3 linked regions of the Homo sapiens genome follow. The protein of the gene in region 2 purifies or fractionates together with the protein of the main gene of each other region. This does not show direct contact. Each region holds a gene or a part of one and is shown on either strand. Other genes may lie near its edges.

Region 1 (3,651 bases), on a different chromosome or scaffold from region 2:
TGAAAGAGAGGCACACACTCCAGTCACCCTGAAGGTCCTTGCCACTGGTCAGCTACTACTCCAGAGGTGAAGCTGTCTAGCTGACCACAGGTATACAAGTGAGTCTCGCTGAGCCCAGCCTAATTTGCTGACCCACAAAACAGTGAGCTAAATAAATGGTACTTGGTTTACTTCACTGAGCTTTGGAGTGGTTTGTTATGCAACAACTACTAACTAATACAGAAGGTATTGCCTTTCGCGAGTGCTGTGGTTTAGGTGTTTGTCCCTCCAAAACCTCATGTTGAATGAATGAATGAATGTATTTATTTATTTAGAGCCAGAATCTCACTCTGTAGCCCAGGCTGGAGTGCAATGGCATGATCTTGGCTCACTGCCACCTCCACCTCCTGGGTGCAAATGATTCTTATGCCTCAGCCTCCTGAGTAGCTGGGATTACAGGCATGTGTCACCATGCCTGGCTATTTTTAGTAGAGACTAGGTGTCACCGTGTTGGTCAGGCTGGTCTCAAACTCCTGACCTCAGGTGATCCGTCTGCCTCAGCCTCCCAAAGTGCTGGGATTACAGGCATGAGCCACTAGGCCCGGCCTCATGTTGAAATCCGATCCCCAGTATTGGAAGTAGAGCCTAATGGGAGGTGTTTGGGTCATGGGGGAATATCCCTCATGAAAAGATGAATGCCCTCCCTGGGGTCAGGGGATGAGTGAGTTCTCACTCTTATTAGTTCCTGCCAGTGCTGGTTGTTAAAAGAGACTGGCACCTCCCCACTCCCTTGCTTCCTCTCTCATCACATGATCTCTGCACATGCTAGCTCCCCTTCACCTTTCACCGCAAATGGAAATGGCCTGAGGCCCCCACCAGATGCTCAATCTTGAACTTTACAGCCAGTAGAACTGTGAGCTAAATAGACCTCTTTTCTTTATAAATTACTCAGACTCAGGTATTTATAGCAACCCTAAACGGACTAAGCCAGGGAGGGACTGTTTCATGCTCATGAGAAGAAGCTAGTAAGGGAAGAGATGCAGGCAGAGACACAGACTAAAGATGCAAGAGATAAATAAAAAGGATCAAGTGCTTGGAGGGAAGAGTCTTTTCCTCTTAACAGAAAGAAAAGAAAAATCAGGTGTAGCTATTAGGGGCAAAATGTTGAAAAAGTTCTCATCTAATGGTTTCTGCTTTCTCTGTGGAGATTAATTGGCCCCCAACCAAACAGGTAACTCACTCTAATACCCTAAGGATTCTAACTTGGACTGCACACTGGACAATGCATGAGTTTTAGAGTTAAAAAAAAAAAAAAAAAAGGCAGGATTCTCCTATCTTCTAGCTCTGTGACCTGGGGCAAATCATTTAAACTTTCTGAACTTCAATTTCCTCCCTTTAAGAAACATAAAACCTCCTTCCCAGGATTACTGTGACATGCTTGGAACAAAAGAGATGCAGAATAAACAGTAGCTACTACTTTCATTTCTATAAAGTAAACTTACTTATGTGAGAATTAATTCCTTTGCAAATGGTAACATCCTAAAAAGACTCAAATGTACTCCTATGCCCCCATATGGATTCTTATTATCAACATCACACCAAAACAATGTTCAGAAAAAAATTATGCATGTGTATATATATATGTGTATGCATACACACACAAAATTAGCCATATACATACACGTGCATGCACACACACATTATTGGCAAAACCCCATGTATTAGCACAACCCGTTTCTATATTGTTATTATTGTAGCTCTGTAGCATTCTTATGAACTAGAGAATTTAATGAAATTTAAACTGAAATGCTCCCACATAACTTTGGATAAATGGCCTATATTTTTCACATTAGAACTCAAGTCAACTTTCAACTCTTTACCTACCGTAACTTTTTTGTAATTCTCCTAAATTTATCAATATGTGTGCACACGTGTGCCCACACACACACACAGAAATATTTATGTTACATATATCAAACATTATTACCTTTAACAGGAACAATGGAAAAACTGGCCTTGATCATTGATCAGTAAATAATCAGCTTACAAGAAATCACAAAATAAACCCTTCAATATCATTGCCAACAGTGTCTTATGATGCTGGGCTTTATGTAGCAGAAAATCAAAACTAACTACATCTTTGCTCAAGAAAAACTTGCCCCTCAATTACAATCATTAGTAATGAAGAATATAGATAAAAGGACAGAATTCCCAGTCTTACTTCACACTGTGTCCCAGGCTCTGATTGCACTTTCCTGAGTTACTTCTGGCTGGATGAAAAGGTGTCTTTCTGTCTGCATCCCTTCGCACCTCCCAGCTCTCCACTGTTGACTGCTCCTGCTTCTGTGGGACACCTTGCTCTCCTGAGGCTTCACTCCTCCTTCCAACCCGTTTCTCTGCTGTTCACTTCTCCTCTATCCCTACTCTCTCCTGCACACACTCAAGGGCTTCCACTTTAATGATTTTTGTAATTCTTTTTATCAGGATGATGCCCAAATTTCTATTTTTCAGCTTTGATTTCTCAGGTTTCAGGGACGTAATCTTAGAAGAAGATATAGTTTGCCTGATGTCTTGGTTTCTGAAAACTGAATTATCCTTTCTCACAGAATGATGATTCAGCCATTCCTTCTTTCACTCATGTATTTAATAAACATGTATCAAGTGCCATATGCATGCCAGTCCCTGTGCCAGGCACTGGAGGTACAGCAAATAACAAAACACTTATATTCCCAGCCTCTAAATGGCCTACTTCTATTTGTTGAAGGAAATAAAAATATTGTCCACAGGAAATCAAAAGAGAAGTAAAATTGTGTGGCTTGGCTTCTCAGTAAATGTATACTTAATGCGAAAGGAGATATAACCATAGCCAATGTGAGAAGTGCCCGTCTTTTGGGCTCCACCTTTGTAAACAAAGGCCATTAGAGTCCCAGTGTAGGTAGAACATACGTTTTGAGTCTTAAGTAGTAGCAAAGACCAATCAGTCCTAGTTCATAACAACTCTAGGGCAGTTTCCTTCCTAATCAGTTACCAAGTCAGCCATCCAAGGTGAGGGATGCAACCTGTCACAAGACAACTTAGAAAATCCAACTGATCCATGTAAAGATCAAATCTGTAACCTGACGCTGTGGGCCAGGGAGGCACGGCTCTAGGAACACCAAGGAAGACAGATCACAATAAGTGAGCACTGACTATAAAATGAATATTGTTAATGTCATGCCCATCAAATACATAGAAATTTTTAGAGTGCTGTGCTATCTGAAAGACCACAGAGGCAACATCAATTATAGCAACTTATCTGTGAACTGAAAACCTGTAAAATCTGTTGGGTTTTGGAAATGGTTTATGTATTATTCTAACTTGTATCCAGACCACAAGCCAGTTACCAGAGTTCAAGAAAGGCCAGTCCCTGTGCTCCCTTACCTTACAAACACACCCTCCCCACCAGACTCAACATGCCCCAAGCTGAACACTGGACTGTCCCTTCCAAATCAGCTCCTCCTCTCATGCACCCCACCTCAAGACATGGGATTTCCATCTATCCAGTTGTTCAAGCCAAAGACATAGAAAGATCCTTGACATGTCTTTTGACCTTAACCTTATCACCCTGCTACCCCCAAATCCTATCCATCAAGTTTTATTAATTCTTCCAAACAGTTTTTTTTTATCAATCTA
Region 2 (3,751 bases):
ACTTTGGTTGCACATTGGAATCACCCAGGGAGCTTTTAAATTGATTGATATCTACACAGAGATTCTGATTTACTTTTTTCGGAGTGTGCCCTGGGTATTAGGATTTTAAATAGCTCCCAAGTGATACTACCATGCTATCAAGATTAAGAACTACGACCCAAATGTGTATACGAATCACTGGGGAACTTGTTAAAATGCACATTCTAGTTTGGTAGGTCCAGGGGTAGGTTCTGAGATTCTGAGTCTCTAATGAACTCCAAGGTGATGCAGATTTTGCTGGTCCATAGACCACACTTTGAGTAGCAAGGGCTTGGAGAGCATGATAATATGATTCCCTTGTTCAATAACATCATGAGCTTCCACATAATAAGCTCTCTCAGCCTGGCATCTTAGGCTGGCATCAGAGGCATTTAAGGACTCTAACAGCAATGGTTATCAAATGTGATCGTCTGAATGACTCCTGGGCAGGTTTTAAAAAATACAGATCCCTGGACCCCATACCAGACCTAATAAATCATAATATTCAAGGTACAGCCTGCACAGGGTATTTGAAAACACTTCCCAAGTGGCATAGTTGATCAACACACTTTAGGAACTGTGATATGCTTCCAAGATAGTTTCCCAGGCTCATTTCACATTAATTCAACATACAAACATTTATTGTACCTGCCTCATGCTAGGTACTAGGGAAACAAAGATGAAACCAGTGCCATCCTTACCTTTGAAGAGTTGGTAAGATAAATGACCAAAACTAGAATATTTACTATTCCCCAGGCACGGCCTAAACACTCACACCTCTGCTAACGGTCTTCTCCTTTGAGAATGTCTAGGTTCCTCAGCACCCGGGATTGCCTGTCCTGATCAATCAAGACAGACACCGTCTTTACCCCATTCGAGCCTCCATTCTTATCGCTCAAACTTACTCTGCTTGGTATTAAAATAGAACCAGAGAAGAAAAGGATTTACCCAAAGTGAAATAAAACAGTTGGTATTTATGTAGTGACTTCCATGTGCCAGTCATTGTTCAAAGCACTTTACACATGTAATATTTTAAAATTCTCAAAATAACCATATGAGATAGGTGTTATTACTATCCCCATCCTCAGGATCGAGGAAAGGGAGGCAACAGAAAAGTAACTTGCCCAAAGAGGTACCAAGCAAGGTTCACTTTCAAGCCTTATGCTTTACTGTCAAGTTGGTTACAGGGCTGACTGGAATACTGTAACTTCTAATTCTCAGGCCTGAGCACTTTCCTGCTCATCAATTCCTGTTTCACGACTTAAATTCAAGCACGAGGGCAAGAACGATGTCTTACATCCCCCACAATGCCTAGTAAGGGTGCAAGTACTTAGTAGGTACTCGATAAATTGATTGGATGAGCTGTCCCATTGAGGGGAGGGGAGAAGTGGATAATGATTTAAACAAACAACAACAGCTAAACAAGAGCAGCGGCCTCCAGGTCTCACGTCACCGCTAGATCCCTCTTGACCCCCCCGCCAGAGAAGGAGGACCCTCCCGCGCCCTTTCGGAGCGTCGGTGGCCCGGCTCCGGCTCTGCGCTCCATCCTCCCAGCCAGCAGGTGCCCCCAGACCCCCGGCTCCTCCTCCGCCGCCGTCACAGCCTCGTCCTCCGCCTCTGGCTCCTCCGCTTCCTGTTGCCGCGATCCGGGCCGGGAGCTGCGGGCGCCCGGGCGCCCGAGGCTTCCCGGTGCGCTCCGCCAGGTAACCGCTCGGCGCGAACTGCCCGGCCGGGGTGGGCACGGGGCCCGCGCGGCCCATTGGTGGGGAAGGAGGCGGCAGAGGGCCCGGGCTCGCCTCCGAAGGGGAGCGGGCCTCCTCCTGCCTCGGACGCCCGAGGCCTTCCTGCGCCAGGCTGCGGCGCCAGCGGGATGCGGGGATAACGGTGCCTGGCTCCGGCTCTTGGTCCGGGCGTGGCCGAGCGTCGCAGGCACCGCCGCGCGGAGATGCGATCGCCGTCCCTGCGAGGCCCCGGGGCCCGCGCTCGCCGCCAGCCACGCCTGCTCCAAGGCTCCTCCTCGCCAGTCTGGCCCTGGAACGGGAGAAACCAGGAGAGGAGCCTTGGACCTCTGAGCCGCGATGGCCTTCCAAATGCCCTTCCGTTCTTTGGCAAAAACCAAGAGCAAAAAGCCGAAACCCACACAGGGAGTTCCCAAGGTCACAGAGTTGTGTCTGCCATTTACGAATGTCTGTTCTTTTATTTAAGTGTTTGTAAATGGGCTACTGTTTTCTCTGTTCTGCCAAGGAATTAGGATTCAGAGAAGAAGACTCTAAAAATACTAATAGGCATATCCAAATGAGCTGATCCGCATTACTGGCCAGTGACCCTGGCCTTTAGAAGGAGATAAGGGAGGGCAGTTCTCTTCACCTGGGATACTTTGTATTTCTGGCCCTTACTCTGAGAATTGGCCTTGATGTTTTACAAAGTTTATCTCAGAACTCCATGTCAGAACTGGACCGGACTGTAGAGTTCTTCAGTCCTAGTCTCTTTCTTTCCTTTCCCTTCCTCCCCTTCCTCTTCCTTCTTTTCTTTTCTTTAATTTCTTCTTTTTTTTTTTAACTGTGGTTCTAGAGGTTAAAGTGATTTGCCCACACTCTTATGGCTAGTCTCTCTAGGGACAGAGACAGAATTGGAACCCAGGTCTATTATGGACACCTACGGTTTTCTTGAATGGAAATCTGATTTCAGATGAAAGCTGTACAGAACTTGACCTTCATGAAGCCCTCTCTGGATAGCATTCTTGGGAAGTGGCTTGTGTATTGACGTCCACAGATAACTATTTCACTGGTCAGAATAAGGTTAAGCAATAAGCATAGCCATGCAGAAAATGTCTGCTGAGATGAAGTAGATATCTGATATGTTTTTGACTTTTTATTTGTACGTTTCAATGGAGGAGCTAATGAATACTAACTAATAACAACATCTTGCTCATTTAGATTTTAGTCCTGTGTGACTAAATTGACTCAGTTATAGTTGTTCTTGTCCTAACGTATTTGTCACCAGTAAAAGTTCCAAGGTACAGCTTTCTGGCTTCATTTCATTTTTAACTGAATAATTGCCTTAAGGATATTTTTAGATCTCAACAAAAACTCCCCTCCTCTTGAACCTTAGAATCCTTCTGCTTCACTCTTGGCAAATCTTTGGGTCGGATTTCAGAACTGAATAAAGCCAGGATTTCCCCCCAACCTCCAAGATGTCTGGACTCTTTGTTTAGTTCTGTATTTAAGTTTATCCCAAGTTTTGTTTTTGACTGATGAACCTGTGACCCAAATCCAAACCTCAGCTGAATTTAGTATCAGCTTAAAACCACATTAAACTGCCATGTGTCATGTGACCTCTAGCAGAAACCAACGTGGCAGTGTTCTGTTTTTTCATGAGTGCGTTTCATTGGGGTTTTTGAACTGTGAAGACATTATTTAATACATGTGCTTTATTTTCTGTGTATTATTGCCCAAGGTCAGTCATCGCTAGAGGGTTATTATTGACATTTACTCATCATAAAATGTGATGTCAGCCTACCAGCTCGGAGTGCAGTTCCTGGTTTCCAGTTTACAACATTGACCAGTTGCTAACATGTTATCTCTGAGGAACTTGGAATGATAAATACAGCCATACTTAAATAGAAGATTCTTGGCCGTGTAGATAAGGAAAATAAGATAAGGCAATATTTTTGAACTATTCTATAATAGAAATGAGGATATATACACAAAATGACCCAGTGCTGTTTTCTTAG
Region 3 (3,651 bases), about 47 Mb from region 2:
CCCCGGTGAGTCTCCCGTTCTCTCCCCCTTTCCCCACCACCTCCATGTGCCATGGAATCATGAGTGACTCAGACTCGGTCTCCACCTGCCAGAAGTTCTCAGTCTTATGTGGATAGGTTTCTGCAAACTCTGATGCCTGAGTCCCAAGTGTTCGGGGAAAGGATAAGGGAGAGCCAACTGGTGCTCAGAGGAGAGAGAGAAGCCTCCATGGAGATTTGCTGGAGGGAGTGGCACATGAGCTGGGGAGAAGGAACTGTCTTTTATCGAGCAACTATTATGTGCCAGGTGTGGTGCAGGTATCATTCCAGCTGCTCCTCACAACAGTCCTGTGAAGTTGGGGTTATTGTTCTCTCTCTGCAGATGATAAGACTGAAGCTCATTCATCCGCACAACAAATATTTACTGAGCTGCTACTATGGGCCAGGTGGTGTGCCAAGTGCCAGGGATCAGAGGTGAACCAAGGAGATATGGGCTCTGCCCACCTGGACTCAGCCTAATGAGAAGCCAGACATGGAACAACTAATTAATTATTCCATTTCAATAGTAATAACAGCTCTGACAGAGATTTGCAGTGTCTGGCCCTTTCATCCAGGTGGTAGTTCAGGCAAGGCTTAAACCGAGGACTGAAGGATAAACAGAAATTGACTGGGTGAAAGGTGTGGGGATCGGGTAAAGGGCACGGCATTCCAGGCAGAGGGATCAGCATGTGCCAAGGCTCTGAGAGAGGTTAAGACATTTGGCAAGTTGAGGAACAGAAGGACAGCTGGGGTGGCTGGTGCTTAGGGAGTGAGTGGGTAAGGAGGGAAGGAGGGTTGGCACGACCAGGTCTTGTGGGCTGTATGAAGGATGTTGGTTTCTGCTAAGAGCACCAGGGAGCCATGACAAGTTTTTGAACAGAGGGATGGCATGATCAGATCAGGTTCAATTTATATTTTTAAAAAGATAATTGTTGTAACGTTGGGGCATGTAAAAAAAAGGGGGTAGTCTGTCAGTTTATGAAATTTTGTTGTAGAAAAAAGGAAAAAAAAAAAGATAGTCTGGCTGGTAGGTAGGGAATGGATTATAGAGGGTAACTGCAGACACCCAGAGGCCACTTAGGAGGCTGGGACAGTGTCCGGGCAACAGACTGGAGATCTGGATTAAGGCCTTGTTGGCCGAGACAGGCTGATGAGTACAGGACATATTTAGGAGATGGAGTCAACAGAGCTTGTGACTGATGGAAGTGGCGGTTTGAAGAGCCGCCCAAAGCCCAGCTTGGCCTCCACCCCCATCTGCCTGACTCCAGAATCTGTGCTTGCTCTTTCTCTGTATGGCACAATGGAGCCCCCTCTCACCTATAGAGAAAGTCCGTTGGGAAGTAGCAGGGGAGACCTGGATGCATTTAGAAACCTCCTCAGGCATCCACGTCCTGAGTGCCAGGCATCATGCTAAGCCCCTGGCAGCAGTGACATCATTTCATCTTCCAACAACCCTGGCAGGGCAGCTGGGTGGGGGTTGGTATTATTAGTCCCATTTTACAGATAAGGAAGCCGAGGTTCAGAGAGGGGAGGTGACTTGTCCAAAGCTTATACTCTTAAGTCAGTGGAAAAGCCTACCATGGAACCTAGGTCAGTGAGATTTTGAGAGGAGGGCGTTATCTGCAGAAGTAGCTGCATGAGCAGAGACAGAGAAGTGATGTGTGCACATGTGTGTGTGCACAAGTGCTTATGCACATATGCATGCGTCTAAGGGCCCAGAGTCTGCCTGGCTGGAGAGCAATTCATGAGGCGAATGAAACAGGAGAGATGACCTCTGAGGTCATCGGGGCCAGCTCATGATGGGCCTCAAAGTCCAGTTGGAAGAAATGGACTTTCCCTGAGGCCTGTAGGGAGCAATAAAGGGCATTCAGCAGCGAGGGCTGTGGTCAGATTTTGGGGAGCAGACTCAGGCTTCCAAGTGGCGGGTGAATTGGAGAAAGCTGGGAGTAAGGAGGCTACAGCAGTAGTCTGCAGGGTGGAGGGACCCAGGTCAGGCTACCCTGGCTCTGAGCTCCAAAGCCTCTTTATGTGGGGCAAGTCAGTTCCACCAAAGAGAGGCGGAGGGAAGGAGGCAAGGGTGACTGTCTGCACTCTGTGACTCTATGAAGCGGCCTCGTCCTTCTCTGCCTGTCCATCTCCTGTGGCTCTGCTGACCCTTCTCTCTGCCCTGGCCTCTATTCTACCTCCCACTACTCCACATATACACGTCCTTCTGTGCCCGGGCTTACTAGAGTCGGGGTGTATTTGTGCCTGTGTCTACCTATCTTTGTGTGTTCACCTCTGTTTATGGGCTTCTCTCTGTAGCCTGTGTGGGAATGACCTGCCCTTTGTCCTCCGACATGCTGGAGTTCATACCTCACTCCAGGTGGAGGCTCCAGGAGCCCCTAACACCAGCTTTACTGGGAACACAGGGCCTGGGGGCACAGCTAGGGACGAGGCTGGGGTGAAGCGGACCAGGTGGGCTAGAGGACAGAAGGGAGTCGCCCTGTCCTCCCTGGAGACTGGGAACCCCAGCAGGATGAAATAGGGGAGGGTGGGCTAATTCTGGAAAGAGACTACTTGTCCTTCTTTTCTGCGTAACTTTGGCAGTCATCAGCATTCTCTGAGCCTCCCCCGTTACCATGAGCTGAGGAGAAAGAGGATGCTCCCTGCCACAGCCCAGCTGGCGGAGGGCTCTGGTAGGGTCTGGAAAGAGCTCTTGAGTCTCTTTAGGTGTAGAGGGCCTCTGACACCCCCTCCCTCCCTCCTCCTTCTTGGGTTTCTGTGGCTTGAGCAGGCCCCAGCTGGAGCCACCGTCCCTCCCAGGAGCCGCCGGGTTTGCTCCAAGGTCAGGTGTGTGACCCGCTCGTGGAGCCCCTGTAAGGTTGAGAGGCGGATCTGGGTAAGTGCTGGCTCGGCCCTCCCTGCCTCCATACTGGCCACCAGGATGAGCCTCCAAAACCAGGCCCAGTCCATCCCTTCCCTGTGACAAACATTCCATGGCTCCCTATCACCCACAGGACACAAACCAGCTGCTCTGCTGTACCCTCTGTCCCCAGCCACACCAGACCTTTTCCCTCTGCCAGCCTTCGCACATGCTGTTCCCTCTGCTGACAAGACCTCAGTTTCCTCATTCACCTGACAAACTGATGCTCATCCTGTAAGGCCCACCTCAAAGGCTGCCTGCCACCTACTCAGTGGGGACTTCCTAGACCACTAGGCATCGTCATTCCCTCCCTCAGCCTAGCGGCACCAAGGCTTAGTGCTTTCTTCATTCTGCCTGGTTTCAGAGCTGGTTTATTCCTGTCTGTGTAGTCTTCCATGAGGCCTAGAACTTCCTCCAAGGCAAGAATGAGGCCTGATTGCGCTGCCTCTATGGAACTTGGCACAAGGCTAGGTAAATGGCACATGCTCAATTAGTGCTCGATGATGGGGAGTCTATGCTGACCTTTCTTACACAGTGGGGCTCAGGGAATGTTCACTGAGTGAGCAAAGGAAGGAAGGAGGGAGTGAAAAACTTCCTTTATAGCAATACTACTACATAGTCTAATTTAGTCTAGGTCTGTCTCCCCTCACCCTCAATGTTTCTTGAAGGCAGGATCTGGCCTGAATCTTTTCTCTGTCCCCAGAACTCAGCACAGGGCCTGGCATGGGG

What was found.
Region 1: the proteins of TLCD5 (region 2) and RHBDD1 purify together in Homo sapiens (affinity purification with mass spectrometry; one large-scale study listed by BioGRID and IntAct). This does not show direct contact.
Region 3: the proteins of TLCD5 (region 2) and PLEKHB1 purify together in Homo sapiens (affinity purification with mass spectrometry; one large-scale study listed by BioGRID and IntAct). This does not show direct contact.

Annotation. Positions count from the first base shown.
Region 1 is NC_000002.12:226,860,001-226,863,651, reverse strand, and holds part of RHBDD1 (rhomboid-related protein 4), read right to left. Parts: intron 1-3,651. UniProt on the Homo sapiens protein: Intramembrane-cleaving serine protease that cleaves single transmembrane or multi-pass membrane proteins in the hydrophobic plane of the membrane, luminal loops and juxtamembrane regions.
Region 2 is NC_000011.10:120,323,648-120,327,398, forward strand, and holds the start of TLCD5 (TLC domain-containing protein 5), read left to right. Parts: upstream 1-1,651; 5' UTR 1,652-1,721; intron 1,722-3,474; exon of another isoform or gene 3,475-3,728; coding exon of another isoform or gene 3,729-3,751.
Region 3 is NC_000011.10:73,653,010-73,656,660, forward strand, and holds part of PLEKHB1 (pleckstrin homology domain-containing family B member 1), read left to right. Parts: coding exon 1-5; intron 6-2,793; coding exon 2,794-2,898; intron 2,899-3,651.